3 separate regions of the Homo sapiens genome follow, and all the other regions are linked to region 1. Evidence: fine-mapped expression QTL. A gene starts in region 1. Each other region holds a variant in brackets. All regions are shown on one strand. Distances are between the middles of the regions.

Region 1 (10,579 bases):
AAAATATACACACTCAAATAAGATACAAGCCCTTTCCCCACAAAGTTTTATACGAACAGATTCAAATGAATTTCAACCCAATTGTTAAGAAAAAAAAATTCACTATATTTCATAAGGTTAGGGAATCAACATTTTACTATAAATGAAATCTTTACGTATGACATTTGGGATAAACCAACAGCATTCTGACTCGTAAAAATAATTTCTTTAAAAAAGATTATCCTTACAAGCCCATTATTTTCTTATACTGTGCAATTATAATCTACACCTTAAGCAAAGGGGAAAAAACCTCGGTTACAAAACGCAAATACTAAGCATGGATTACTTAGTCCCTAAATTCTATCTGCCTCCACCTTAGTCCTCTTATTTTGTGTCAAGAGACAACATTAAACAATTTCAGTACATTATTTTTACAGTGGATGCTCTTCTACTATATTCACAGCTCATTAAGAGTACTAGAATGCTGACGTTTGCTAAATTATTTATTGTATCCAAAAAGTTAGGTCTCAATAGATACAATTTCTTAAATTTGGGGTTAAAAATTTTTATCTGGAATTCATTTAAAGTAGAAGTTGCCTTCAAAGAATTATTCCAGTTAAGTTTTAATACAATCTGCACAGAAATGGGAAAACTATAGAGGTACATAACTCTTGTAAGAATAAATTACATGTACAAGTGCACACAAAACTGTATCAGTCACAAATCTCCTTTGGTCTCAGTAGTGCCATGGTACAGTGCGAAGCATATTTTTTAGTTCTTGGGGAGAGGAAGGGGACTTCCAAATACTAAATGGATCGTGATTTTAAGCAAATAATCAAATGCACAAAAAATGCCAGATCACTTTAGATAATGAATCCAAACCAAGGACTCCTACTGTCAAATTCGTCTCACAAAATGACACGCTTTCTTCTCATAATAAAGGTCAGGGAATTCTACAGGGCCACGAGGGACTATCACAAAAACATTTCCAGCAACTCAAAATACCCATCAAGACTTTGTACTTTGCATACGTTAATCAGGTTTTTAAAAAACAAACAAACAAGGATGTAGCTGTCACACTTAAAAGAATTTCCTTTAACATAAAAATTTCCAGTAGCCAAAAATGGGCGAGGCCAATAAACCGCTGGTCTAAATTACCTTACACATACTGTACTTCATATGCACCAGAAGACGCATCTGAGCCGAAGCCCACCGCACTGCGGCCCCTGGAATTCAGCGGGCGGCCCGCGCCAGGGCACCGAGCAGGAAGCACTGCACCCGCGCCGCAGTCCCCGGGCCAAGCCGGAGGGGCTGCGGGGAGCAGTCACCACTGCTTTGAAACTGAATGGCTGACACATCCGGTCCTGGCTCTTACACCACTCCGCCAAATGCAAACTTCAAAGGCCAAATTCAAACTCCAAACAGAAGTCACTCAAGTGACTTAGCAGTGCAGTTCGCATTCCCAGGAACACTCAAAGCCCCTTGGGGGCTGCAATTAGACAAACCGCACTTCCTAAAAGACTGCAAGCCTCCGCGAGTGTGCAGCCTCCCGCCGCACGGCTTTGACAGGCGTTACCGAGCCGTCCTCCTGGAGCCCTGCGGCCGGCGCTGGGGGCGCGCCGCCTGCGTCCGGGCCCAGCCCGCGGTATCTGCCTAGGGACTCGAGTCCCGGGCGGGCCGAGGGGCTCTGCCTGTCACGGCCGCTGGGACCTGCTACTTTCTCTTCGGTCCTCTCAGTCTCCCACCCGACCTCGGGCTTCTCACCCACCCCGCCCCTCTTCCGACCACCGCCCGCCTCAGGCTCGGGCCTCGCCCCCCAGTGCCTTTGCCCCGGGGACACCCGTCCGGGGGCGCCGCCGCAGGGCCGTGCCCCGCCCCCGGGCTCCTCGGAGAGCCCCGATTCCAGGAGTCCCACAAAGCCAGCCGTGGCCCCCTACACCTTTTCGCAACGGTTCCCCGCAGAGAGGCTCGCACGCCTGTCACATGTCTGCAAACAATAACAAACTCTTCCGCACGTCCCCGTCCGGTCCCCCAGGCTGGGTCCGGGGCGCCGCCCGACTCCGAAGGGGTCGGGGGGTGCTCAGGGGCGTAGGTCCCGGCGAGCGGCGCGTAGCCTCGCTGCGCTGAACCCCGGGACGCCGTGCATGGTGCCCGGGGTTCATTCATTGCCCTCTGCCCGCTCTCCAAGTCCCCGCCGCGACCCCGGCCGTGCTGCTCACCCGGCGGGGGCCGCTGCAGGAGACGGCTCGGCGGCGGGCGCCCGCTTCTCCCCGGGCTCGGCCGCTGCGGGACTCGAGGCGCCGCTGTCCGGCGCCGCCACCGACTCGGTAAGGTGGGCGCCGCCGCGGCTCGCGGCTCCGTGGGGCGGCGGCACCGCCACAGGCTGGAAGCCGGTCCCACTCCCCGCTGCGTCCGCGGGCTCCGGCGACGGGGAAGTCGAGGAGGCCGGCGGTGAGGCGGCAAGGAAGAGCGGCTGCTCAGGCAGCTGGTCCAGCTCCACACTCCGCACTTTGCGCAGCTGCCGCCGCCGCCAGTCCGCCCGCTCGCGGCCCCCGCTGCCCGCCTCCCGCAGCAGTCCCGCGGCAGCCGCGGGCGCGCTGCTCGCCTTGAGGGCTCCTCCGCCGCCGCCTGCCTCAGGGCTCGTAGCCCTGGCGCCCGGGAATCCCGACGACGAGGCGCGATTCCCCGCCGCCGCCGCCATTTTCTCTCGCGGGCTACATTCGCTCGGCCCCTGCGAGGGAGGGAGGGGGCGGGGAGAGCGCAGGGGGCGGGCACTGCGCCGCCAGCGTAAGGCCTCCTGCGCCAACTGCGTGAGCGCGGCCCGCCGGGCGCCTGGCCTGGACTGACCGACGGGCGGGCGCACTGGGTCCGGCCTGCGGCAGAGGTGTGGGTGGAGGGCGGCCCGGCGGCCGCAGGTGGGAGGGAGTGGGCTGTGCTCTCCGCCGGGCGAGAGGGCGGGCGGGCGAGGTGGACTGGGAGGCGGAGGGGGCGGGGGCGGAGGCGGAGGCGTGGGCTCCCGGGACTCTGCGCGCTGCACGCGCCGCGCCGCCAGGTAGTCCCGGCCGCACCGGCGACAGGAGGAGCCTTGGCGGCAGCGCTGCGCCGCTTCCTCTCGGCAATCTCGGCCCGGCACCGCGGAGCTCGCGGGAGGGGAGTTGCACCTTCCGAAAGAAAGAATTAGTTCCAACTTGGGTTTCTGGTGCTTGAAGGGGACGCAGGCGAGAGGGTTTACAGTCTGTCATTCCCACTGCCCTTTGCAGTGGGCGTCGGGGGACCCGGGCGTGGACCAGCCTCCCACCGACGCGCAGGTGGCGCCCGGGACCGTCGCCTGCTGCAAAGCGAAAGCAAGTCAACGTTCAGCAGACAGGCTGCCGCGGACCAGAAAAATAAAGTTTTGTTTGTGTTTTCTTTTGAAAAGAAAACATTCCTTCTCTATTGTCCCACCCCTGTCCCTGTGCTACAGATAACAAAACTTCAAAGTTTTCTGTAATACCTTACATCCTGAAGCTGCTGATTTGGGACAACTACCCCCTACCCTCACCAAGTCCCCACAGCCTCTGAGAAACCGTTGGGGCGAGGAAGGGAGGCGGGTGTCCCCGTCGATCTTTAGTTTTTCCTTGGCTGTCTTTGGGAAAGGCAGTCCCGTACAGAACCACATATAGCGCGTTTGGGGAGGGGACCAGCGCTGTGCCAGGAAGTGCTCGGTAATGTCACCCTCGGCCAGGTCCCGGCCCTCCCCGAATCCGATGCTTCTCGCCGCACGTCCTTCTTCCCTGCAGGGTCGGGCCACCGGCCGGGTTCCCTCTGTCCCCACTCCTGCAGGGCCTGGCTGCCCATCGCTGCGTTGTGAGTCCTCCTAGTCCCTGGACTCTACGTGAGAAGGTGCTTTGGGATGGAAAAAGCAACATTTACACGTTAATGATTTTTGACCTTTTGTCAACTGAGGAGAACTTCTGTGTTGCGTTTATTTCTTCCTTCCTTTCCTTTCCTCCAGCTGGTTTGTTTAGGATGGGGAATCTCCCAAAACCCAGGAGGAACGTCTATAGATTTACTTTGTGAAACATGATTAAGGAGGGGGGAGGTTGGGGTGGGGGGGTGCGGATTCTCACGGAGATAGTCTTGTCAGTCTTCACATATTTAGACAAAAGCCTGAACTATTTACAGAATAATTCCATTGACTTCTGGAGACTAGGTAAAATGAAAGCCCCTTTCCCAGATACAATGTTAACTGCGTAACCAGGTTAGATCAGAGGGGTTTTAAAAAGTCCAGATTTCATATTAGCTCAATGATTTGAAAACTGCTGTAACATCTCCCATAAGATAGTTTTAGATCGTTACACCCAACGGTACAAATTTTGAAAGTTCAGATAAATCTGTTAAAAATTAAGTCTACATTTAGGCTATAATTATATGCTATTTTAATGGCAGTCAAATGTATCATTCAAACCAAACAGTGGTTATTTCTCAGGTCTTCCTGGGTTGCCACACCCACCAAATCCTAAACTGAAACGGATAAACTTTCCTTGTTCCTATTTTGATCTAAAGACTTTTACATTTGCACGCACATATTCAGGTACCTGTAAGTGAGAAAAGTAAGTGGAAGACTTTAGCCAGAGTAGCAGAGTAAAAAGGAGATTCCAGCAAAACTGATTTTTGACTGTTTGTACAGTGGTTGAAACTGGGGATCAAAGGGAGAGGGCTACCCAGCGCAGCACTATGAACTAGCTACAATTCTCTCACTTCCTCCATCCACCACGTATTACCATGGAGAAACCTAAGTGTTGGTATTTTCCCACAGTTTTTGTTGCTTTGAGTCATTTTTTTCTTTGTTTACGTAAATATTCAGGTTGTCATTATGCATCTGCATATGGACACACTGATTTCTTAAAGAGAGAATCAAAGGACATGCTTAACTGAAAAGGGTGTTCTCCCTCTGCCATATGTTAATAGAAGTTTCTGAGTCTAATGCGTGATTAAGACTCTAGCTGGTTTTGGTGCTCTTCAGTCCTGCTATGTTACTGCAGAGAGGTGGATGTCAAATATCAAGTACTGTAGGCTCTGAATTCTCTTAATATGATTTATTTAATAACATTCAGGAGACTTGTATTTCTTCCAAGGTTGTTTCTAGACTGAAAGCTCCAATTCCTGTTTCCAAGCTCTTCATTTCCATCCTCACTGGGACGTAAACCTTGCAATGATTTCACGCATGCAATTTCATGGCAATTTCATGACCATTTCAATAACCTTAATACCAGTGCATTACAGATCACTGCCTCCACATAGTGCTTCTGGAAACTGCCTACATCACACTTCAGTTCCTGCAGCATATTCACGTTGAGGATCCACTTTGACACTGGGCATTTCCTCACTGTACATAAATATCACAAATATTAGAATGAGCAGACATAATATACATTGGGAGAAATATTTCAGCCTGTACATCATTCATCATATATTTAGTAAGCACCTACTGTGCATATGCAGGAATTTTTCTTCTCTGAGGATATTGTTTGTTGTTTTTCATTTCTACAAAAATGAATAAACAAAATATTCCAATCTACAGATATTTTTATTAGTGGGTATTTATCAGGCTGACTGGTAGAATTCCAGATCCATCAGTATGTGAATGTATTCACATATTCATGGCTGTTTGTGAGATCTATACCTCAGATAAACATAAAAGAATAATATAACCTTGAGAATAGGGTAAAAGCTGGTGTTCTTTCAAGCTTACAAATATTTATTATGGAATACTTGCAGGAGTGCTGGGGCTAGAATTTGGTTTCTGCATGTTCTTTCCAGACAACATACTTCCCAGGTGTTTTCAGATGTTCTAAGTCAGAAAATCCTGTCATCAGTGGGATAATTGGTTCCCTACAAGGGCACTGTAAATGACATTATAGTAGAAGGTCTCTTAACCAGCCTCCATTTAGCTGACTCATCCAGTAACAGATACCAGCCATTACTGTGTGGTGTACAACATGCAGAGGGATGATACAGCACAATAAATGCTCAGGCCAGCGGCTGGTGTGCACCTGCATACTTCTGTTCCCACTAGGTGAGTTATGGGTCCCATGAGAATCCATTGTGCTTGTTCCCAAACTTGATTCCACCTATTACAATGTTCCTTGTGAAATTTAATTAAATATTACACAATTGATTATTAAATTTAAAAACATGAGTATGTGTGTGCGAAAAGAAAGTTGTTCCAGTGAAAATGAAGTGAAATGCTTTGAGAGAAAAGTGATTGAAACTGGGGATCAAAGTGAGGCAGTACCCAGTGCAACACTTATCAACTAGTTAACAATTCTCTAACTTCTTCCCAGCCACCGCATACCACCACGGGGAAACCTAAGTGCCAGTCTTTCCAATAGTTTTTGATGCTTCTAGTCATTTTTATTTTAATCACTTATGTGAATATTCAGGTTGTCATTATGCATTTGCATATGGACACACTGATTTTTTAAGAGAAAAATGATCAGAGGACATGCTTAATTGAAAGGGTGTTCTTCCTTTACCATATGTTAATAGGAAGTATTTGAGGCGAGGCACTGAAAAAATCTGTCAAATTAGTTGTGGGTATGACCATTATGAAAGATTGGGAAGAATTTACTTTGCAGGTATCTATCAGTAGTCACTTTAAAAAAACTAAAACTGAAAATTGTAGATGATGTGAAAGATACATGGAACTCTAAACGGTGAACCCACATTTTAAAGACTAAAGACTTACAGCCAAATATTGACCAAAAAAACCCCAAACCAACCAAAACAAAACACTGTTGTTTATATGTTTTAAGCTAAAGTAAAATACTTAAGAGATACGTATGATTCCCTCTTATTAATAAACCTTCTAAACATTTTGCATGTATTTGCATGTTCTTAAAATCAGAAATTAATTTTTGTAATAAATAATGAAAAGTACTTGGGATTTTATATTTAAGAACACAACTACAACTTATTAAATTTAATTTGCCTCAGAGTAAGCAAAATTCTTCTCACTTTACAATCTTGCACTGATTCTCTGAATTCTTTGAATGGCCATCGTAGTTGCTGTTTTTTGATGCATGCTGAGATACTCTTTTTCCATTTGACCTTTGTGGCTTAGTGAGGGCTATCATTTTTGCAAACAATATTTGAAGGGTTCATACATTTTCCCAAGATCCTCCTGTAATACTCAATTGCTTTTTTTAGACTAGTGTCCTTGTCAGTTTTTTCTTCCTTTTACCAACTTCCTGGTCCAACTCTGCTGAATCCTGCATTCACAAGGCTTTGCATGTGACCTGAGCAGTTCAGGACCACTTTCATTGGCTCTGTTCACTTCTGCATCTTTTGCAACATTTGCACCTTCACTTTGCAATTGATTTCCATTGTTTTATGGCCAAAGCTGCTATAAAGAGGTATACAAAGTTGGCATGGGGTTGGGCACAGTGGCTCACGCCTGTAATCCCAGCACTTTGGAAAGCCGAGACAGTAGGGTTACTTGAGGCCTGGAGTTTGAGGCCAGCCTGGGTGACATAGTGAGACCCTCATCTCTACAAAAATTAAAAAAAAAATTAGCTGGGCATGGTGGCACACACCTGTAGTCTCAGGTACTCAGGAAGCTGAGATGGGACGGTGGATTATGCCCCGGAGTTCCAGACTGCAAGGTGCATAATCACACCACTGCACTCCAGCCTGGGCCACAGAGCAACACCCTGTCTCTAAAAATAAATAAATAAATAAAAATTTTCAAAAATTATCATGCACTAGAAGAGTGCTGTCTAACAAAATATAGTGCAAGCCACATATATAATATTAAATTTTCTAGTAGATACATTTAAAACCAGGTGAAATTAATTTCAATAATGCATTTTATTTTACATAACGTATCCAAAAAATTATTTCCACGAGTAATCAATCAATGTATAACGTATTACGAATGAGATAGTTTCTCTTTTCTGGCGCTTTGAAATCTGGTGTGTGTTTTACACTGACCATTTCTAATATCTTAATTCAGACTAGCCACATTTTGAGTGCTCAAAGGTCACAGGTAGCTGACGTATTGGACAGTGCAGACCTAGAACTATAGTACCTAACACCAATGAGTTTTATGGATTGTTAAATGCTTGATTAGGTCAGGATTAATATATAAGAAAAATAATCCACATGTGTATGTTCAGGAAATAAGAAATGCAATGGATATAAATTATAGTCATGTGCTGCATAATGAGGGACCACATATATGATGGTGGTCCCAGAAGATTATAATGCCATGTTTTTACTGTACATTTTCTATGTTTAGATATATTTGGATACCCAAATACTTACCATTGTGTTACACTGCCTACAGTATTCAGCACAGTCACATGCTATATAGGTTTGTAGCCTAGGAGCAGTAAGCTATACCATATAGCTTATGTGTGTAGTAGGCTATACTATCCAGATTTGTGTACATACACTCTATGATGTTCACACAATGACAAAATCACCTAATGATGCATTTCTTGGAATGTATCAAATGTATTCCAGTCATTAAGTGGTGCATGACTGTAGTAACATATAACTAAGAAAATTAGTCTTTCCACCTCTCCTAGCTACCTTTTCAAATACATTTTAGCCACTATTGTTGGAGTTACCTTTCTCAACTACATTTCTGATTCTGTCCTCTCTCCTCAAACCCTTTAATGGTTCCACATTGCATAGAGTATGGAATCTACATTCTTTGATTCATTCAACAAATATCAAGTGCATTACCTCCTATGTGCTAGACACTGTACATACCCTAGAGATCAAAGTAGATATGACCTTTTACCCTCATGGAACTCTCAGTCTATCATCTCCCTTACTTTCCACCATTGACAGTTCAGTTCTCACCATAGTACATCCTGTCCTGAGGCCTGGGCTCCAGCCACAAATACCAGTTGCCCCTAGTTAGGAATATATCGTGCTCTCTTTCCTCTTCTCCTGAAAACACTTCCTTAAATCCACTTCACTCCTAAAACCCTCACTACACTACCCCTGGGCCAATCCCTTTCCTAACGTTTTCAGGGTTGGGGTGAGAATACAGATAGAGGCCCCTTACAACATTTTTAATTATTTAAAAGTTAAAATGTAAGCCAACAGTAAGTAAAATATGTTCTAGGTTCCCACTTTGATAAGTATACTTTTATAAAGACAAAATTGAATATTGTATGTAAAGTTATGGCTTTCATATGACTGATATGACAAAATATCAAAGACAGTTGTATTTAATTGCAGCCCATTAATGGGCTGACAATGTTTGGATGAGGAATAAAGACACGTAATTTGCAATTTTTTTATGAAATTAATTTTCTAGCTTTAATTTCAACAAAATTACTAATTATGTTGTTATATTAAGATATTTCACATAATTTGTGTTCAGTCACTTGAAACAATCCAATGATCTATCATTATTAAAAGGTAAAAATCAATTCAAAATACAAATTTGACAAACATCAAAATTTTAAATAAAAATGATTTAAATAAAGCTGAACTTCTAAAACTTTTGAAAATTTGATTATCAAATATTTTATTAAAATAAAACTATTTGAACTTCTAGCATTCAAGAGCCACATAGTTGCTAATGTATGGACAACATACTTTAAATGTTTTGTCAAATCTATATAAATACAAATCTAAGTCACACATAATGCTTAATACTGCAAAATATTCCTTAGTGTTCGTGTGCAAATGTTGTTAATATTGCCCATATATTGTGCCCATATATTTGACAAGTTAGCGGATTTCTCTCTTCTCTTACTGAACACTTCTACCTGTGAGGTCCTCCCTGTGTTCAAAGTGGTGTTGTTTCCAACATCAGTGGCAGCATCAACATCCACAAAACTTTTTGACATTTGAAGGCCCTGGGGCAAGGCATGTGAAGCTGCGCTTCCCTGGGGCTCACTAGTGTTGATCGCCAGAGCAGATGTTTGCCCAGCCACCACTGTGCACTAGATCCCAGTGATCAGGGCAGCTGTGTGTTCTTGAGTCTATTTCTATTTCCAAATTTGTGACACATCATGTACTCTAAAACACAGGGCCAGGGGTAGTCTCCTGCCCAGGTCCGAGGGAGGTACTGCTAAGCACCTGCTAAGGGGCAGGCCCTTTTCTGGGAGGCATAAGAGGTGCTGGGAGCAGAGAAAACAAGACAATGCCCTTTTCCTCTGGATATTTACAAAGCCTGCCTTGCATTGGAGCCACTTGTGTCTGTGTGCACATTTTCCAATTCCTATGAGACCCTGGAGCAGAGACCATTTCGTTTTCATCATCTCACCTCCACAGGGTCCCTACCTCGGTGCCTTGCATGCAGTAGATGCTCAGTGAACAGGAGTTGATTTAGATGGTTACGAAACACCAACTGTCTAAGAGTTCTTAGGATTTGACCTTTAATCACAACACTCCCTCCCTAACAGGGAGTTCCCCTTCCTTGAAATAAAACTACCTCATCTGCGAATTCAATTGTGCATTCATTTTAGAAAAAGATAAGAATTTATCTCTATTTATATTCTGAGTCTCTTACTGGGGGCAATTGGCGGGAATAGGGGATCAGGGAAACTGGGAATCTAAAAGGCAGAAAAATAGAATGGCAGAAAAGAAGCAG
Region 2 (10,579 bases), 130 kb after region 1:
GAAGAAACCACACAAGAGATGAAGAAAATTAAATTAATTTCCAGCTATGTTGTAATCTTAAGAGAAAGCAAAATGTACCTCCTAAATGAGTATCTATATATTCCATATATATGTATTTACACACACACTCACACACACACTCAATTTCCTTGGAACAGAAAATTATCAAGAGAATTTGAACTTTTAGTCAATTATCATTTCCCCAACATATGGATACCTTGTGATATATTCTTAAATAGAGGTGCTATTAGAATTTTTGGAGCTAAGTTATACTGAAAATATGACCAAACTTTAAAAAATACATAAGAATGAAGGAAATGAAACTGAATACTTACTAGGACTTCTGAAGCCTACTCTGAATTAAAATGAGGTAGAAAAAATAAACTATAGTTGCCAGGTGAGGACTCACATTGTCTCACTTGGAAATGGGGACATGAGCCCTTGGTACAATCATCTTTTTATCACTGGAAGAATTAAAGGACTTCCCACATCAGTTACTCTTTGATTGTTCCAAAACCCAAGTCCAAGTTCCTGTAATGCCTGGCAGTAACTTCTTCTGACCCAAAGTAAAGGTTAGTAGAACATAGCATTTCCAGGCTGTGATGTTAGAGGCACAAATATGACATGCTAATGTTACTTTTTAAACGTTACTCTAAGAAAAGATTTAATCTCTGCACTATTACTTGTGTTACTATCTACTGATGTAAAGAAAGCCATGACTTCTAGATTGGTGGATGGATTTTGGTGACAATCTTGAATTAGAATCTTGGCTTTACTACATTTTCATTTTGTGAACCTAGGCAAGCTAACTTCTCTGAGACATAGTTTCTTGCCTGTAAAATAGGTATAATAATAACCTCTAATGGGGTTTTGTGAGGATGGAGTGAGAAAATAGGTAAATCACCTGCTTAGTAGAGATCATTCCCCCATTGTCCTTTTCTAGGACTCACAGGTTTTTAAATTGCTAACATTAAGGATTCTCACACTTTACCATTGAAACTACTTTTTTAGGTTTCTTGGAAGTGTTTTTGTCTCTCCTGATCTTTAATATCCTTCTTCTATGTGTTTCCTTTTTCATCCCTATTCTTCCCTCCTTGATCTGATATTCACCCCAATACATATTTAAACCTCCCATCTTGGTTTTCTCTATCCAACTTTACTTTCTTCCTTTTTTCTTCCTGGCAACCAAATAACTTCTTTGATCCTGAGTACTTTATCACTCTCCAGGAACAATTCAGCTATGCATATTGCCTGTAAAAACATTATGGCATTACAAATAATTTTCAAGGAAAAAATTCTACCAATACATCCTCTTTCTGTCTCTGATCATACGCTTATATTTTAAAAATGCATTTTGTAAATAATATTTGTAAATAGTGTAGTGCAACGGAAAAAGTACAGAAAGAGGGAGATCAGTTCCTGTTCAGCTCTTGTGATCCTTGGTCGGTCCATTTATCTCTTAAAACCTCAATTTCTTCATCTGTTAAAAAAAAAAAAAAAGGCAGTTGGAGAGGTTATCCCTGTGTTCTCTTTCAGCTTTAAAAATGGTCTATGAATTGGTATCTCTATAAAAAGGCAATGTTCTTCCTATACTGGCTAACCCAGGAATGCAACTGATCACATATCATTATTTGCTTTTTTCACTGAGTTCCTTTGTGTGAGTGCAGAGAATAAGCAGAAGACAAGATTCTGTAGCACAGGTAGTAGGTAGGACATGCTGCCTGATGGGTCAGTACCCTCTTGGCCACCTTCTACCACTTGGGCCTGCTGATCTTTAGCCACACTGATGCTCTCGAATGGTTCTCTTGCTTGGTCCCCTGTAGGACAGGTCTCATAACCAAGTTTATGAAATGGCTGGACAAGATTAGAAGTTCAAGCTTTGGCCATGGAAAACAACAGATCTATTGGTCTGTGCCAGAAACAGATCACAAAAATCTCTCTGCTCTCATGAGCAGCAGCAGCAGCAGCAGCAGCAACATTTCACCAAGAGTGCAGGTCCAATCCGATGGGGATATCAGCTTCATGGGAGGCTGGGGGAGGACAGCAAGGAAGATCAGAAACAAACATGTTTAGAAAAATGTCCCCATTTTTCCACCTCAGGAATTGATTCTCAGAGTATGGTAAAATGCTTCCCTCCCCCTGAATGACAGTGAACCGAAAAGCCAGGACAGAGGTTTCTGTGTTAAAATGTTAATGTGAAGTCTCACTGTATTTTGAGTGCTTAAGGGAAAGCTAATGGGAACTTTCCAGGGAAGATGGTGGGTGTTGCTAACATGAAAATATGTATGAGAATTCCTAAATGGAGGCTTTATATGGTTCAGTTGGAGGATAATGAAATCCTAGCTTGTCGGGGATGGGTGGGTAGGGCAGAGGATGGGACTGGGTGAGAGTGGGGAGAAAGGGTAGAGAAGAAAGCCTGCTTTTGGACTCTGTGGGCTGGGGAGCTGCCTGTGTGAAGGGTCTAGAATGAAGGCTGATGGGGAAACAGAGCAAAACCGGGGCAGTGCCGGATGGAGAAACTTAAATGGCTGGAGAGCTAGACAGGAGGGAGGCCCCTGCCCAGAATGAGGATAGAAGCGTGGCACTGGACATGGAAAATACCAGGGGTTAGTTGAAAAAACAAAAAAAGAAATAATTCTTGAAGGACCATACTGGGAAGGACCTGTGGATTGAAAGGAAAGTGGCCTTTCAAAGTCCCGGTGAGTGATCATCAGCTTTGAACCTGTGCCAAGACAGTCAGGGTAATGGTTGCTTGGCTCTTTCTAACCTTTGTAGCTAAGGCCACGGCTGCCCAATTTGTCTAGGACTTGGGGGACAATCTTGTTTTTGCAAAGAAACTGGAACCCAAAGTTATAGTCCACAGTCATCATGGTGACCTGGGTTTTCAACTCCACTGCAGGGCCTGCTCCATCTTGTAACTGGCCTTTTGCCTTATTTCCTTTTGACTAAAACTCCATTTTGGGCCTTAGGAACTGCCCCTTTGTTTTACAGTTATATTTGATTGAGTACTGGCTACTGTGCTGGCACTCAACCTCACTATCTCATCTGTTCCTCATAATAACCCTATGAGTAAAGCAATTATTCCCAGTTGATAGATAAGAAAACTGAGGCTTACAGAGTTTTTGTTTTCTTGCTTGCCACAAATTATGGGTCAGAGCCAGGGTTTAATCCAGGCATTTTACCCCCAGAGCCCAGTGCTCTGGTCAGTGTCTTTCCCCCCTGCACCGGCTTCAACATTCAATCTCTGCCCTAATTCTTTGCAGCCCTGATTACACTGGGATGATCCTCCTGTATGTGCTGCTTTTAGTCCAGCCATTGAATACCTTCTACATTGTCTGCCTCCCTCATCTTTTGCTGATGATGCTCAGGGGTCTGCCTGCTCCCTGGGTCATGGTCATCTGACATGGACTGGTCCTGCTGCTTAGAGAGAACTCTGCTGGTAGTCCCTGAGCTCTCCTGCAGAGCTCCAACCATAGCAAGGTTCTCTCTGACTTAATCTGCAGTGAACTGGAGTTATGTGGGTGTACTCATGAGGACAGGCTGGAAGCAGTGTTCAGCCAGATAAGATGTGCACTCAGGGTGTGATGTTGGCTGGAGTGTAGGATCAGGCCTTCAGTGACCCCAAGTAGAAATGAGTCCTGTAGATTTTATTTCTAGATGAGCTGAGGAAGGACATTTTCCCCTTTAACGGTGAATTGGGGTCACTCCTTATGGGAATTTTTGGTATGCCTTGAAGGATTCTGCAGCAATTCATCTTGCACATGGCCTGCCCTTGGAGTGTGGGGCCTGGGGCTGTACACTGACATCCTGTTTTGGTTGGGCAGAGGTTCTTAGCCCTCGCCATTCATCACAATCACCTGAGTAGTTCCTAGGAACAGCTGAGCCCTGCGAGGCATCCTCAGAAGTGCAGCTTCAGATGGCCTGGAGTGATATCTAGACATCCATAGTTTTATAGAAATGTGCATAGAAAAGTGCAAAAATCAGGTGATTTTAATGCCCAGCCTGTGTTGCTAACCCCTCATGTGCTGGGTGGTTCTTGGGCAGGAACAGGAGCAAGGCAGGGTGACCTGATATTTTGCACTTTTTTATGAGATGCTTAGTTAGCTGTGGCCACAAAAGGAGACAGAGGAGAAGCTCAGCAAAACAAAGTTTATGCTCACAGGTCCTCGTGACAGGAGGCATGGTCGTGCCATGCAGGGGCACATGGAAAAACACCAGGGTGGTAGGAAGCAGAAGATAGGAACTGGGGGAAGATTTGGCCAGTGCCCCCAATAAATGGGGTTTTCATGAGAAAGGCAGGGCAGGGTAGACAGTTTAGGATTGGCTAGTTTGAATTATTTGGGGCAGCCTCTAAGATAGAGGGGTGGCCCCTAGTTGCCTGATACCTGGCCCTGGGTTAATTAAGGCAGAGGAATATTGCCTCCTTGGGTGCACAGGCAAGACTGGGTAGTTTTCTTATGAAAGGCTGGATTGGCTCATTTTCATATGAAAGGCTGAGCCCTTTGCCATCTCTAAGAATTGACTAGCCCCAAGAGAAACAGCCTCTTTCCAGCTAGAAAATAAAATAAAATTACACACACATGCGTGTGCACACACACACACAAAACCTGAGAAGAAAATAAATCGTTAATGTTGCTTTGCATTGTGAACCTTGAATATTGAGGAATGTAAATCTGATCAAAAAAAAGAAGGCTAGGCTCAGTGGCTCATGCCTATAATCCCAATACTTTGGGAGGCTAAGGCAGGAGGATTGCTTGAACCCAGAAGTTTGAGGCTGCAATGAGCTGTGATCCTGTCACTGCACCCCAGCCTGGATGACAGAGTGAGACCCTGGCTTAAAAAATAACAATAATAATAATACATAATAATTTTTTAAAAATTTAAAAATGAAAAAGAGCCAGGTAGATTCCTTAAAGTGTCCCAGAATGCTAGAGGAAGCTCACCATGTACTTGAAAGGTACCATGAGCCAGAGATTTAGAGAGGACACTGTAGCTGGGAGGCTGTTCTATGGGACTGGGAGTTGCTCAGCAGCAGCATGCATGAGGGAGCGTGCTTGGCTGGCAGGCTGCAAACTCTGAATTCTATGTGAATGTGGCCCCCAAGTTGCCCTGAAGCTTTGGACTGTTGTCTAATGAACTGCTCAAATGTGTTCAACTCTAGTAATCAGAGCTGCAAAGGCAGAAATGTGCTGGTGGGTGGGGGTGGGGGGGTGGGGAGAGAAATTTGGTAATTGGTTCCAGCCTGTGAAAGGCCAAGTAAAAGCGTGGATCATTATTTAAAGTGCAGTGGTCTTTGGATGATGGTTATGATGGTCCACATTTGATGCAAAAGAAAGCCAAATATATTTTAAACAGGATTCAAGAAATACAAAGTTAAGGATTTTCTTAGCAGAAAAGTA[G/A]AAAAGTGTGCATGCTGTTTACTTAGTTTTGCTCACATTTTTTTTTTTTTTAACTTTTTCAGTTCCTGTTTTTTAGCTTTTGTTTTTAAGCCTGTGGGCTCTCAGGGTCAAACTTAGGTTAATTGACGTGTTTTTTAAATCAAAGTTTTGAGATAAACCAAACTTTCATAGCTAGATAGTAAAGCCCTGATCACAAGGGTTTTAAAATCAAACAGGGGGTCTTTGCACACACGGAGCTCTGTGGCTTTGTGTCTGCATATGCATATGGCTACGTGTGAAGGCAGGAGTAAATGTTCCTTCAACTTGCTGAGCCTCCTCTGTAAATTGAGGGGTTTGGAACAGTGACCTGTAACTACAGAATATGGGCTAACAGTTGTTGGGCGCTTACTGTATGCCAGACACTAAATTCTTAACATGGATTATTTTATTTACTCCTCACCATGTTCCTAGATGTCCATACTATTATGATCACTGCCTCTGTTTAGAGATTAGGAACTGAGGTTTAGGGAGGTTAAGTAACTTTCTCAAGGTCACACAGCTAGTGAAGGCTGGAGCTGGGATTTTGATCCCAGACCCCATGATGATAATCACTCTGCTTACATGACCTCCCAAAATAACTTTGTCTCCACTTTGTTAAGATGAGTTCTCCAAGGCCAGCCCTCCACTGAGCCTATTTCCTCCTAGCCAAGTTGCGTTTTGTCATCTGTGCTGAGACATGAGTGGTTACACTGGGTCATGACTGTTAGGCCAACAGGTTAAGCTAATTCCAAATGTGGATAACTGAGTAAGAAGGACTTTAAGTTAGCTTTTCTTGATAACAGGAATGTAAGACTGTGAGCTGGAAGGAACACTACAGAATGAATCATTTTCATTAACAGCAACTTGCTGGTGCACCCATGTTCATAGCAGAGCTATTCACAATAGTCAAGAAGTAGAAGCCACACAAAGTGTATACGGATGGATGAATGAATAGACAAAATGTGGTATTTGCATGAGTAGAATACTATTCAGCCTTAAAAAGGAAGTTACTACATGGATGAACTTCAAGGACATTATGCTAAGTGAAACAAGCCAGTCACAGAAGGACAAATACTGTATGACTTCACTTCTATGAGATATCTAGAGTATGTGAAGTCATAAAAATAGAAGGTAGAAGGTGGCTGCCAAGGGCTGGGGAAGGGAGAAACAAGGAGTTGTTTAATGGATAGAAAATTTTAGTTTTGCAAGATGAAAAGGTTCTGGAGACTCATTGTACAACAGTGCAAATATACTTAACACTATTGAACTGAACAGTGAAAATGGCTAACATGATTAATTCTATGTATATTTCACCACAATTAAAACACAAACAAATAAAAGAATAAGTAACATTCTTGATCTGTGCACTGAAAATTGGTCTTAAGCCAAAATAACCTTACTGTCACATACCTTTAAAGAGATGCTTACAGTCTTTCTTTATGGGGGGAATTGTGAACATGAATTTAATGATTTGTCTTGAATGTTAATTTATTACTCTGAGTTTATTGTGCATCTATAGTGGTTAGAGGGCACAATAATTGTACCTACAGCATAGGGAATGTACAATGCATTTGGATCACTTAGCATAGTGAAAAATAAAATATTTGGAGAAATGACAAATTTTAAAAAGCAATTTTCCAGTTTTAAAATAGAAATACATAGTTTCTCCAAATTAATGCACTGGCAGATTGCTTTTTCACCTTACAGAATCTCTAAACACATCCACACGATTATATGAGGACCAGAACTGTCTTTCTGGATAACTGAGTACAGAACTATGCCAAGCCTTCCGTATAGACTAGTGAGCAGAACAAGTCTTCCTGGATGAACAGCCACTTCTGGGAAAACTAGGTGGAAATGCAGATTCAGCAACTCACAGCCCGGAACCTTTAGGTAAATTTTAACACAAGAGAATTGTCTCATGTACTGGCAGTAGCTCCTTCTGGAATGTATGCCCTGATGGACTTCATTCAGGGCAGGTTGCTGAAAATTTGTGTAGGATGTAAAAATCTGAATAACAGATTAGGAAGGAGCCCCAAGAAACAGTGTGGTTCATCAAGCTGCAAAGGCAGGATGTCTAAGTTTGGTTCCCCAAAAGCAAGCCCGACAGTAGATCTCACGTGCAGGTAGTTTATTTAGGAGTTGAACCCAAGAAGCAGGAATGAGGGGATGGAGAGAATGTGGCAGAAAGGAAAATATTAGGGTATGTTATCAAGGCTGATGCTGTGGACAACGGGAGCATGGTTACCCTGGCGTTCTAAGAAGTGCATGGAAAGTCTCCAGATTGTCCTTTGTTATGCTGGAGCCTGGGGCACTTCTTCACAGTTCTCACGCCTCATTGCTTGAGGATTTCCAAGCTGACTTGAAAGTGGCCTGCCTGGGCTCCCACACCTTCACAGGAGGTCCTGAGGCAGAAAGCAAGAAAATGACCTGAGATTTCTAGAACTCAATGCCAAAACCAGGGCTGAAATCAGAGGTGGGCTGAGGAGATGTGATGTGAGCACAAAGAGTTGACTGGGAAGTCACTTAATATGAGTCCTTGTAAGCCACTCATATTAAGTCCTTGTGGCATACATGGAGAAAGGCAGTGTGGTGTAGTGGTTAAGCCTGTGGGCCTGTATCAGACAGCCTAGGTTTGAATCCTGATTTCATCAACTTTATCAGGCACATGTTCTTGAAGAAGCCACTTTTCTTAGTCCATTTGAGCTGCTGTAACAAAATACCTTAGACTCAGTAATCTGTAAACAGAAATGTATTGCATACAGTTCTGGAGGCTGCAAAGTCCAAGATCAAGGAACTAGCAGATTCAGTGTCCGGTGAAGGCTGCTCTCTCTGCTTCAAAATGGTGCCTTCTTGCTGTGTCTTCACATGGCAGAAGGGGCAAGGGAGCTTCCTTGAGTCTCTTTTATAGGGGCACGAATCCCATTCATAGGGCAGAGCCTCATAACTTATCACTTTCCAAAATGCCCCACCGCTTAATACCATCACACTGGATATTAGATTCCAGTATAAGAATTTTGGGGGTACACAAACATTCAGATCATAGCAATGCTTAACTTCCCTATGCCTTGGTTTTCTCATCTGTGAGATGGTGCTATAAAAGCTTCCTGGCAATGTCACATAGATGGTCTAGATCATCCAGGTGGCACACTTAGCATTCTGGCAGTTATAATGATACAGCAGGTTGACTTTCCCAGGGCCTCAGAATTACTTAGAATGACTCAATCAGAAAACCTGCTGTGTAAGCTTTTTGTCAAAATCCTGAATAAGCCCAGACCAATATGTCAGTGCTGGAAAGGATTAATGGCCTTAATTGATGGCATGGAAATAAGACTTTTCATCCACTCATCTAGGATGGATTTGGCAAATTCTGTAGAAGATGAACGAGATGCCTTGTTTTTTAAACTAGATTTCCACTCTCACCTTTTTAAGGGGCCTGCTAGTTTTCCCTGTTGACAATATTCCTTTAAAACACCAAATCCCCATGATCCACGTGACATGAAGAATTGCCCTGAAGGTACAGCCACAGGCACCTTCAGCCTTACCCCTAGAATCATTCTTGCTCTGGAGGATGCCTATACCTTAAGGAGATGCCTCTGGTCCTTTCTACTAGGTTTTATGGTTTTAAAAAATTGTACAGTGGACATTTTCCTGCATTTTGGAGGGAAACAATCTGGAGAGGCTGTTCAGGAATGGGCAAGACTAATATCTCTATGGCCATAGACTCCTGACAGAAACATCGCTGATGTGGTCCCAGGAAGTCAGTGACTGATATGAAAATCCCAAATTGAATTTTAAGCCTGGAGTTTAGCCATTTTCCCTCTATTGGGAGTTTTCATAATGGAAAATAATACAAGTTATTCTACTAATTCGGAGCATTTTTGCATTATACAACTTCTCTTGATTATAATGGGTGACTGAGGAACGGGAACCCCACGGGGGAAGAGAAAATTAAGGCCCTGCAAAGCCTAGCAAGATACTGTTGCATGTTTCCTTGGTGAGCTGCTCTGAATTTTTGCTTATATCCTTCTCTCTTTGGTTTAAGATTGGGTGTTCAAATCAGCAGAATCACAAAATAAAAGCCAAAGGAGATGGAGAAGACTGATATTACTGAGTGTGTGGTTTGAAACACTTGGGTTTATTCTGTCAACCTTGACCAATGGGGTATGTATATTTTAGGTTATGATAATAACATATAACTATGAAACTCCTCTATTGTTAGTTATCATGTCTGAAACTTTCCAATCCTAACCCTAATCATCTTCCCCTTCCACTGAAACAACTATCTTAATATCCCAGTTTTTGATAAAACATAATATTTAAGAATCTACTATCACATTATAGCAGAACGAACGGTCCTGTTGGATGTTTTAGGGACTTAGTTCCAAATACTGCGAAAACTTCTATCTGTCCCCTACAATTGTTTGCTATTCAGTGATCCTGACATTGTTTATTGCTCAGGGTGGTTATGACCTGTGTTACCATCATGCTATGTTAAAGTTCAGTGGTGACCTGACCTGTATTCTAGTGTTCAGAGCCATCATTTTGCATTAAGTAGACACTCACTGACCTGCAGGTGTTTTTAGTTTCTGCCCACTCTTTGTCTAAAAAGCAAACCAGAGAAAGAGAAGACACTGAAGCAACAGAAGGGAAGCCACAACCACCCTGATGGTGGTGCCTTCGCGCTGTAAGGGTATTTATTTCTGCGTGATGATCCAGAGCGGTGGGGGGGAAGGCAGCGTGGAGCATAGTAGGTCTGAGCACCTACTATGAGCTCAGCACTATGGTAGGGGATGGATAAGAAAGTACAATAAAGTTCTCTGTTTTCCATGATCTTAGAATCTGGTTGGGGAAACAAACCACGAACTCTTGGGGGGCAGTTTGGTCCCGAAGCAGTGCTCCGTGCATTGGGTCAGAATGAGTGATGTGCACAGCTAATGCCTTGGGAATCCAAAGGCAAGGGAGGCTCTGTGTGTGCTGCTGGGGTCAAGCAGTGCTGGGAAGGATGGGTAGATGACAGCAAGGCACAGAAAACCAGAGAGCAAAGTCCCTAGGAGCGATTTTTAAAGAAGTGATGTGATCTGGAATTTTAACTACATGAGTTCATCTTGTTGAAGGTACACAGCAGGAGGCAAATCAAGTCTTTGCACATGGGGTTGTTT
Region 3 (10,579 bases), 140 kb after region 1:
GCGGAGTTGCTGTGTTTAGAGCAGAGGTGACATTCTCAGGGCTTGGTTTTCTTTGTACTGTGTTCTGTTGATGTTTTCTTGTGGTCCTTAGACATCTTGTTCTCCCACATTCTATATTCTCTGTGATGCTTTGGAGGACGATGGATTTCTCATTCTAAGGGCAAGAGGAGATCCTGGCCTTCAGACCCTCAAGGAGCAGCCCTACTCAGGATTATTTTAATTTGGAAACCCAAGATTCTACTTTTAAAAACAGACCCTTTCTAAGGAAATTCCTATTATGTAAAGAACTAGAATATATATATATTTTTTAATGCACAGGCCACTGCCTCTTGGACCTGTCTGTCCTTTTCATGATCTTGAATTAGCTTGACTTGGTTCTTGGTTGGAAGCAGAAAAATTGTATTCAACAGTTATGTAAGAGAATAGCTGGAAGCAATTGGATTAAAATATTCAAGCGGCTTAAGCCCAGAGAGGATGAATCAAAATATTGAGTACTGTTTGAGGTGCAAGGAGAATATTTGTACAGCTTCTGATGTGCTTGGACATTGATTGTCTTGTGGTCATGAAGCCATGTTGGTAGTTTAAAGTTCAGAGGGAATTCATGCTTTAGGAGTTATCCCTCCCAAAATGGCAAAACATCACAATGAAGACTTTTCCCAATGCTGTTCTTTGCCAAAAGCATAAGACTAAAGCAAGATTGATGCTGGAACAGTCTGGGCAGTAGACAGGCCAATGCATGTAATGCATATCATTAAAAATAGTTAGCACAAAGAAATGGTTGTTATTGTGCTTCGTCCAAGTTGGACTTAGTAGCTAATTAAGTACAAGCTCCTTCTTTTTTTTTCCATGGCCATATGCAGTTTTTGAATTCTTATAACACAAATTGTTTTAAAGAAGTTAAATACAGAATGCATTGAGTTTGGTAGAGAAAGTTTAAAGGTCTGCATTTTCCCACCAGAGCTATTTAATATCAGCTGCAGAGTGGGTGTGTGTGTGTGTGGAAGGGTTGTGACCTCCCTTATTTTTACAACCATTGCCATGATTTCATAATACTGGCAGCAGTCACCCAGAGTGCAGAAGTAGACTTTATTACAGTAATTATATGCCAGAATGTGGGTATTAAAACAGAAAAACTTTTCTACTGATAATAAATGTCAAGGGAAAAATGACTTTACGCAACAAATAGCCCTTCATCCATGTTTTTAATGTATTAATGGCCTCAATGAAGACTGAGATGTGTACATTGGTTAGAAGTTCAGACTCCATATAGCCTTTTTGCCTTACTTGTAGATAGTAAGTAGGGAAGTTGAAGGGTAGAGGCATGTCTTGGCAAGTTAGATTTATTTTTCTCCATGGCGTAAAGTCGGATATATATTCACTTGGGCAGATATAGCTATTGTTTTTTGCAGATGGGTAAGTCAGGACCATAACTGAATTAAGCTATTGTTTCTGGATTACCATATTGATTTTCTCTAATGTATTTTGATGGGTTTCTGAGAGCTGGGAGAAGTAATGTGGCATGGAAATTTATCTTGAAATGTAGTTTTCTGACTATTAAAAGGCTCAAATAAGGACAATAAAAGACCTGAATAAGTACGAAGAAGTGTAACTTTTTGAAAATAGCCATATTCTGAAAAATAAGCTTGTGGCTACTAAATTATACTTATCAAGCATTAATTGTGTGGTTCATTAATATATTGCTGAAATAACAAATAAGGTCTAAATGTAGAAAGTCTACACCAGGAAACATTTTTTGCACTCTGCAATTGAATTTGGTGACAGGTTGATTAATCCCAAGAAATTCTAAAATTACAGTCTTTTATCTTTGATTTCAATGGACTTTGAAGTGGGTAGTTAGACCTTTCTCTGAAGTACTCTATTAGTTTGAATATACAGAATAGATTCAGAAACTCAGTAGCAAAACTCAGAGCAGGATTTAGGTTTCCAGCCTCCATCATATAAGAGTCTAAACATCACACCTTTCTTAGATTTCTGGTCAGTTGCTAAAGCCATGAAGACTATTTGAAGGTGCCTGCAGACTTTTCCCTGAATAGCGTGTTTAATCCTGCACAGTTGGTACTTAACAAATACTTGAGGATGATGAAGATTTTCATTTTGGGCCCTGCTTTACTAGCCCTCTGCTTAGTTATATGGAAGAACGTGGGTTAGAAACCTCCAGATGTGTGTTGATTATTGATTATGAACTGAGCTGTATCTCAGGGGAGCCCTGGGCTGGGAGGCACTGATAGCTGTGACTCATAGTAGCCTTAGGGGATGGCCATGGGCATGCAGTTTCTTTGCTCAAAGTCCAGATCAGTCTCTAGAACATGACACTAATTCCTCTTCTGTGTCTTCTCTGTTCTCTGCAGTGGGTTTGTCTTGAACAATGAGCCATTCACAGGCGCCCAGGGAACTACCCTGGACCGGGGAGATGACTGCAGGCCCTGCAGGCAGTTGGCCACTCTCCAGTCTAGGTATTCTTGGGAATGTGGAATTATTTGAATCAAAGGGAAATAAATCTTTTGCAAATGTTAATACAAATGACTGTGGGAAGGACTTGGTGCTAAACGAGGAGCTGTGAACTCTTGGTGCCTACTGAGTTAGTTTTTGGCAGGGAATAATACTAGGTTGCTATGGGAATGATGAAGACAAAATAATAGTCATATTTTAATGGTTGCTCTTACTGTGTCATCTTCAACTGCTCTAGGCTGAAAAAACTTGCTATTTGAATGGTTTTATTACTCTTACTTCATGTTTTGTTTCTTTTTCTCCTGTATTTGAGCTTGCAAACATGTGTCCCTAAATAAGTTCATGAATCTAGCTTACCACGTTTTCTTTGAGCCTAAAGGAATCAGCGCATTTGATGTTGATCCTGTTGATTATATGCCTTCTGTGTCATAAGTTTAAATTAGAAAAGGGGCACCCTGGGGATCTGAAATTCCATGTGCTTTTCTGATTGGGTGGAGAAAGAAGGAGAGAGAAACTGTGCAGTGTGGGACAAAGGTCAGCTGACCTGGGCCAAGCCTCCCCTTTGGCACATCTAGCTGTGTCACTGGGCAGAGGTTAGTACACCTCTCTGACCTGGGTCTCTGCATTAGTAAAATGGGGCTAATTATATCACTACTCTGGCGTTGTGAGCTCCTCAGATGATATACGTAAAATCTTAGTACAATGTCCACAAACACCTGGCAATTGTGAAGCCAATTCCTTATTGTATACATAGCAAATATCACAGCTCAATCCTTTTCCTTTGAGCAAAGAGGCAGCCTCAGAATCCCTCTCAGCACAATGCTCCAGGTAGCCACTACCAACCCATCACTGTTGACATGTGATATTTACTGAAGCACAATCCTTGGGGCATGATAGACATTCAATAGATGATAGTTCTTTATTCTTACTATTCCTTTTTTTTGAGGTGAAGTTTTGCCCTTGTTGCCCAGGCTGGAGTGCAGTGGCACGATCTCAGCTCACTGCAACCTCTGCCTCCCAGGTTCAAGCAATTCTCCTGCCTTAGCCTCCCAAGTATCTGGGATTACAGGTGCCCGCCACCATGCTTGGCTAAATTTGTTTTCATATTTTTAGTAGAGACAGGCTTTCACCATGTTGGCCAGGCTTGTCTCGAACTCCTGACCTCAAGTGATCCGCCCACCTTGGCCTCCCAAAGCGCTAAGATTACAGGCGTGAGCCACCGCGCCCGGCCTATTCCTACTATTCTTGCTATTATTGTTGTAACAGGAGACTGTAGATATGACAGCAGGAGATGCCGGTGGCTATTTTTTGCTTTTCCCCTTATAATTCAGCTTGCCTCTAGAATCAGCAGAATTAGGCATAGCTGACCACCTACCTGACTCGGGAATACTGCTCTCTAATCTTTGTCTGCCTCTCTGGTACCTTCCTCTGCCTTCTTTGCTGCTTTCTCCTCATCTCAATGACCTGCAAATAATTGTGTACTTGGTCCTTCCTTGTCTTTTTTTATCCACCCTCACTAGGTGATCTCATCTGGTCTCAGGGGTCTGTATAGCCTGCAGAACCATAAGCCAATTATCCATATGCTAATGACACAAACATTTATGTCTCTAGGCTAGAGACAAATCTCCATTGTGTTTCTAACTGCATTCTTGAGATATATCTCTAATAAAATGTTTCATTACTTGTATCAATCAGTTCTGTTAATTGGATATCTAACAGGCATCTCCGGCCCAGCATGTTTAGTGTTGAAGTCCTGATTCATAACCCACGAGCACTCCTCACCCCTCTGGCAACCCGAATCTATTCCAGCCTTCCTCATTCTAGCAAAAGGCAATTCTGCCCAAGAGTTGCTCCATATTACTCTGTTCTCAGACTGCTATAAAGAAATACCTGAGACTGGTTAATTTATGAAGAAAAGAGGTTTAATTGGCTTATGGTTCTGCAGGCTATACAGAAAGCATAGTGACTGCTGCTTCTGGGGAGGCCTCAGGAAACGTCCTATCATGGTGGAAGGCAAGGGGAAGCCGGCACATCTTCCATGGCTGGAACCAGAGCAAGAAGGAGAGAGGGTGGGAAGTGCTACACACTTTTTTTTTTTTGAGACAGTTTCGCTCTTGTTGCCCAGGCTGGAGTGCAATGGCGCCATCTCGACTCACCTCAACCTCCGCCTCCCAGGTTCAAGCAATTCTCCTACTTCAGCCTCCCAAGTAGGTGAGATTACAGGCACCCATCACCATGCCTGGCTAATTTTGTATTTTTAGTAGAGATGGGGTTTCTCCATGTTGGTCAGGCTAGTCTCGAATTCCCAGCTTCAGGTGATCTGCCCGCCTCGGCCTCCCAAAGTGCTGGGATTACAAGCGTAAGCCACCGCGCCCGGCCGGTGCTCCACACTTTTAAACAACCAGATGTCATGATAACTCTACCACTATACAGTACCAAAGGGGGGATGGTACTAAACCATTCATGAGAACTCTGCTCCCATGATCCAATCACCTCACACCCAGCCCTACTTCCAACACTGGGGATTACAATTCAACGAGAGATGTGGGTGGGATCCAAACCATATCATTGCTCCAACCTAAAACCTTGAAAGTCATTCTTGGTTCTCTTTTCCTCATACTTCCAATCCATCAATAAATCCTGTCAGCTCTACCTCCAAGAATCTTACTACTTCTCACCACCTCCACTGCTACCACCACTGGTCCAAGCCACCATTATCCCTGGAGTCTTGTAGTAGCCAATAATAGATAGCTACAGTTGTTTCTCAATACACAGGCAAATTGATTCTTTTAAATGGAAATCAGATCATGTCACTCCTGGGTTCCACAGTTTTTAATGCCTTTCCACCTCACTTTGAGAAAAAGCTGAAGCCCCGGCAATGTCCTACAAAGCCCCACACAACTGGGCCTCAAGACAACATCTCCTTCCACTGTCTCCTCGCTCACTCTGCTCTGGTCACCCTGGCCTTCTCGCTGTTCCAAGAATATGCCACTCCTACTTCAGGCCTTTACTTTTGTTCCCCCTCTGCTTGGAAACGGCTTCCTCCAGATGTACACAACGCTTGCTTCCTCATTTCTTTCAAGTCTGTTTATCAGTGAGTCCATCTTAT[A/G]TATGACATTAGCAACCACCCTTCCTTACTGCTGCAGTCTGGTACCCACTCACCTACTTTCTCACTTTCTTTTTCCCCATGGCACATATCAATATCTGACATATTATGGCTATACTTGTTTATTGCTTGTCTGTTTCTTGCAGTAGATATGAGATCCAAGAGTGCAGAAACTTTGTTCCCTGCTGCGTCTCCATCACCTAGAAAGTACTGGACACATGGTAGGCATTCACATTTTGTCAGACTATTACGTGAATGAAATGAATGGCTCAACATAATCACTGCTAAGAACAAGAGCTCTTGCAAAGCCTCTGTAACCACAAGTAAAAATATTTGTGTTTACTAAAGTCTTTCAGTACCTTAATTTGTTTGCTTTGGTAAATAGAGTCAGAATTTAACATGGAAAAACTCTGAACTCTCCTAGTTGATTTCCTTGAGGCTGACCAGCTTGGAGTGGTTATAAAACACAGACAGGTATTTAAAATTGCCTGGATGTAGCCAGATGCAGTGGCTCATGCCTGTAATCCCAGCTCTTTGGGAGGCTGAGGCAGGCAGATCACTTGAGGTAAGGAGTTCTAGACCAGCCTGGCCAACATGGTGAAACCCTGTCTTTACTAAAAATACAAAAATTAGCTGGGCGTAGTGGTGCATGCCTGTAATCCCAGCTACTCAGGAGGCTGAGGCAGGAGAATCACTGGAACCCAGGAGGCAGAGGTTGCAGTAAGCTGAGGTTGTGCACTCCAGCCTGAGCGACAGAGGGAGACTCAGTGCCTGAATTTCTGTAAGGGATACTAATCTGGTTGGAAAGGAGATGTGGGTCTCTAAGCTGAATTAAGGTGGTTATTTGTATAAGAACATGAGAAAAACATCAACTGCTCATTTCAAAGAACGAAAGAGTGATAAAGGCTGCCGATAGGATTTGGACAGGGAAGGAAGGTACCGAAGCTGTCTTCCTCAGAAGCATAAACACATGGGAGTTAGTCCTACTAAGTAACAGTGTGGACTCGAAGTAGTCCCTGAAATTTCTTTGAACCTCAGTTTCCTCACCAGTGAACTGAGGGGCTTAGATATATTATTTATAAGGTCAATTCCAACCCTATTTTCTGGTGGTGAGATCAGGTCTCAGATTTATATTCTCAGACATAACTTTCATTAAATTGGAAATTTGAGATCCAGTTTCTTTTTCTGCAAAATGAAAAGTTTGACTAAAATGAACTCTAAGGTTTTTATTATTATTTTTTAACAGGTCTAATATTCTTTGTTTTCATTGTGTTTTTGGATTTTTTTTCTCTGCCCAATTGGCTCTGGTAAAATTTAACCTCTTCATTATGATTATTGGTTGCTTCTTTTGTTCGTTTCTTTGAAGTTGTGGTCACACACACACACACACACACACAAAATGTGAAGATATGTCACATACATTTGTAGATGCAGTGTGTGCTATCTTGCTGTTGGTGACCACTAACTTTGCCTTGAGACAGGGTGTGGAGCAGAGATACATCCTTGAGGTTTGTTTTATTCTCTAAACTTGACAGTGAGAGGACAGGAAATGGTCCATTGAGAAACTGGTGACCAAAAAATGCTGAAATTCTTCTTTAACCTCAGTTCCAGTCAATTCACATTGGAAACCGCAGTGCTTTTAAATTGCGCATTCCTAATTCTCTGATTTCTCACCCCTGTGGCTTGTTTTAGGGTCTCTAGGTGTATATTCAGTCAGCTGAACCACTCGAAGGGCCTGGTCACACCTGTGTCTTACCTTTGTGCCTCCATTTCTACAAGTACAAAGACATGGAGGAAACAGAAATTTTGCTACCTCCTTTCAGTGTTAAGTTTGAGATATCCTGATAAAAACCTTCAAAAAAGGGACTGAATGTTATTATTATTTTTTAAAGTAAAGACAAGAGGTTTATGTCCTACAGTTCTGGAGTCTGGGAAGTCCAAGGTTGAGGGTCCTGCATCTCTGAATGTGAATTTTTAACAAATGTGTTGGGGCTGGAGGGTTGGGGTGAGTTGGAATGGGGACAGAGCTCTTGAAAGATGCTTATTAAATCTGCAGTCCTTTCTAACAGACTTTTACAGGTAGGAACGCTTTCTTTGAGAAAGATGCACAGAGCTTGTCCTCTTCCCTTGAAAGCCATGGGCAATGAATGATAAAGTAGTTAGTCATCACAGAGCACTGGTGACTTAACTGCTCAAATCAATAAATATTCCCATTTCCATTGACTCATTTAATGGGAAAAGAAGGTCACATGTCAAGAAAGAGGGAGGGGATGGAAGAAAGGAGAGAATGAGTGAGACAGGAATTTTGAAATGTATTAGAACGTGTTTTTTTCTAACATTTTAGTATGAAGATTCCCAAATTACAGGAAAGTTGAAGGAATTAAACAGGGTATACCCATTTACTCACAACTTGGATCCTGCAATTAATATTTTGCTATAATTGCTTTATTACCTCTATTGATCCTCTCAAGAGTAGCAGTCTGTGAGTTTTGATGAAGGCTTACTTGTGTGACCCAGTCCTAACCGGATATAAAATATAACCTTCATCTCAGAAAATTCTTTCTTGCCCCTTCCCAGGTAATCCCTGCTCCTACCTCACAGCCAGAGGCAACCACTATTCTAATTTTTAAAACTGTAGATTAGTTTTGCCTATTTTTGAATTCCATGTTAATAATACCATACAGTATGAGCTCTTTTGTATGTGAAGCTTCTTTCATTTACCATAATATTTTTGAGATACAGTCAGGTTGCTGTGTGTAGCCATTTATTTTTTAAACCACAATAATCTCTATTCATTTTTAGAGAGTCTCAGGTTAAGAGTTTCTTCTAAAAGCAACAGGAAAAATAAGCTGTTGTTTTTTTTTTTTTTTTAAGATAGGGGAGAGAGAGTTGAAAGGAACCTGAGTGAAAGGTACTTTGGCCTCTTAATTTTCATGATAAAGAAGTTGAGGCCCCGTCATTGCTCTGGGGCACGCAGACTGAGCTGAAACTGGAACCCAGGTCTCCTGATTCACGGCTTGAAAGGGTTAGGAAGGCAGCTGAGTAGGGTGGTTGTTTGAGCTGAAGCCATGTGAGAATAGAGAGTTTCGACAGAGCTTTGCTTTAGAGGATGTGAAACTACAGTAACCTCATGTGACAAAAAATCCTCCGAGGCCTTGGTATGGAGCCAGAGGAGGAAGTTTGACATGGCCTCTGGTTACCAGCTCCACCTCTGAACCCACTGGCCCAGGATGACTTATGGTGAGCTCTCTGATTTGCAATAAAACTAGACATGGGACAGAGAAAGCTTTTCTGCACCATGCACAAGGCAGGACAATGCTAAAGGAGGGGGGGGAAAAAAAAACAAGAAAGACACCTTCAGCCACATGGCCTTCCCATAGCAGGGGACCCAGAGCTGAAAATAAAACACCCAGGGAGGAAGGGATGCTGTGGTTACAGACAGAGCCTTTGTCTCCCAAGTGCATGTTCCAATTCAGCCCAGGATGACAATGACCTGGAGGTTCCTGCCTGCCAGCTGTTGGCTGGCCTTTGTGAAAGTCCCCGAGCTCCAGGCCAATGCTTAGCGGGCAGGTATCCATATCGTGAAGCCAATTGGCACTGCTGGTACCTTTGTTGATGATGTGAGCACAGCCACTGGGAACCAAGGCTGCTGGTGCACTCTTGCTACCAGCTGGCAGGTGCAAACCCATGGGCAGGTGCCCTGGGGAGAGACGGTTCATGCTGCCATGGTAACCGATAAAAAAAAGGAGGTTTCTTCAAGGTCAGTTTGCCCTTTTTTCTGCTAGAGGATATTGTGAGGAAGAAATGAATTTGTGGCAGCCCTGACTTGTGTGTAAATGTGTCCTTCATCTGTTTTGAATTGACACTTCTAATTGGATCTAATATTAGTGTCACCCACTGGGCAAATCTGGGTATTGGTGGGTCTCCTGGGCTATGTCATTGTGGACAAAGATCAAGTCACCAGAGAAGTCCCAGAAGAGACGTTCCAGTGTAAACCAAGCAGGATTGAACAAAGAATTCCAAAAGTGATTTTGAAAAGGCTGACAGTCAGGTTGGACAGGTTCTTCGGGCTATTCCAGGATGTGAAATTAATGCGGACTGTCTGAGGCGTGTCACCCTAGATGTCCTTTAGCCAAACTGTCCTAGGTGCAAGGAAGAAGGGACCCTTGTCAGCTTGCTTGGTGCCTCACGAGTTTGTCACAATGCATTCATTGTAAAGAAGCAAGCTTTCCTTATCATCATTGTCCTTCTCTCTGTAAACCTTCTGCTCATGCCTTTACCTTGGGCAAATACATTTTCTGGCTTTGATTTAAAAGTTCAGCTTCTTGATATTAATATTTCTGCGCTTCATTCTGATAAAAGTTGTTCTGACTCAGGTCATTGGCTTGGGTGTCAGTAATTTTCCCATTTAGCCTCTCTTGTGTGTTTTTCATATTCTGAGATTTCTGTTGGCAGAAATAACAGCATTGTATTAATTAATTAATTAGTAGCATTGTGTTATTGCAGGGGCTTCATGAACCCCTGGGAGAATTTTACTCTGTTCTGCTTACTGGGATGCTACCAAAATTATTTAGTACCCTGACAATCAGAAATATCATTTTTTTGGATAAACTCTAAGCAACTTGCCTGCAAGTATAACCATGGAGGTTGGCCTCAGCTTCCCAATGTACAAAATGAAAAGATTAGATTAAATGATGTCTTCAGGTACTTGCCAGCTGGTTTTCTAAGATGTTTGATTTTAACATAAAAAGAAAACCTGTGAATATATTCAACAAATAACAAATGGAATTTACAAAGCTCTGCACTGGATCCTTGTATGCAGTAAATATTTATAATTCATCTACCAAGTCTGGGTGCTGGGGCTATGGAAGCGGATACAGCATCATTTTCTATTCTGAAGGATCTCATAGCCTAATGAGGGAGGGGTCACAAGAAAAAAATTCTTCTCAAAATTGGCAGGAGTTTGAAGACAAAATTCTGCTTGGGAAAAGAACTTACCTTTTG

Evidence for each region.
Region 2: its variant is fine-mapped to the expression of MAP3K1 in whole blood (TOPMed, PIP above 0.99).
Region 3: its variant is fine-mapped to the expression of MAP3K1 in whole blood (TOPMed, PIP above 0.99).

What each region holds. Positions count from the first base shown.
Region 1 is chr5:56,807,675-56,818,253 of GRCh38, reverse strand. It overlaps MAP3K1 (mitogen-activated protein kinase kinase kinase 1), which reads right to left and starts at 2,705. Exons shown (of 20, transcript NM_005921.2): 1 at 2,199-2,705. The coding sequence starts at 2,680. RefSeq lists silencers at 1,608-1,847, 2,028-2,147, 2,218-2,987 and enhancers at 1,073-1,896, 3,348-3,477.
Region 2 is chr5:56,681,538-56,692,116 of GRCh38, reverse strand. No RefSeq gene overlaps it. Among named protein-coding and RNA genes, the nearest start is that of C5orf67, 81 kb to the right of the region's middle. RefSeq lists an enhancer at 5,360-5,509. The variant G/A (reference allele first, on the strand shown) is at 5,400.
Region 3 is chr5:56,668,319-56,678,897 of GRCh38, reverse strand. No RefSeq gene overlaps it. Among named protein-coding and RNA genes, the nearest start is that of C5orf67, 67 kb to the right of the region's middle. RefSeq lists an enhancer at 8,403-8,452 and a silencer at 8,402-8,696. The variant A/G (reference allele first, on the strand shown) is at 5,579.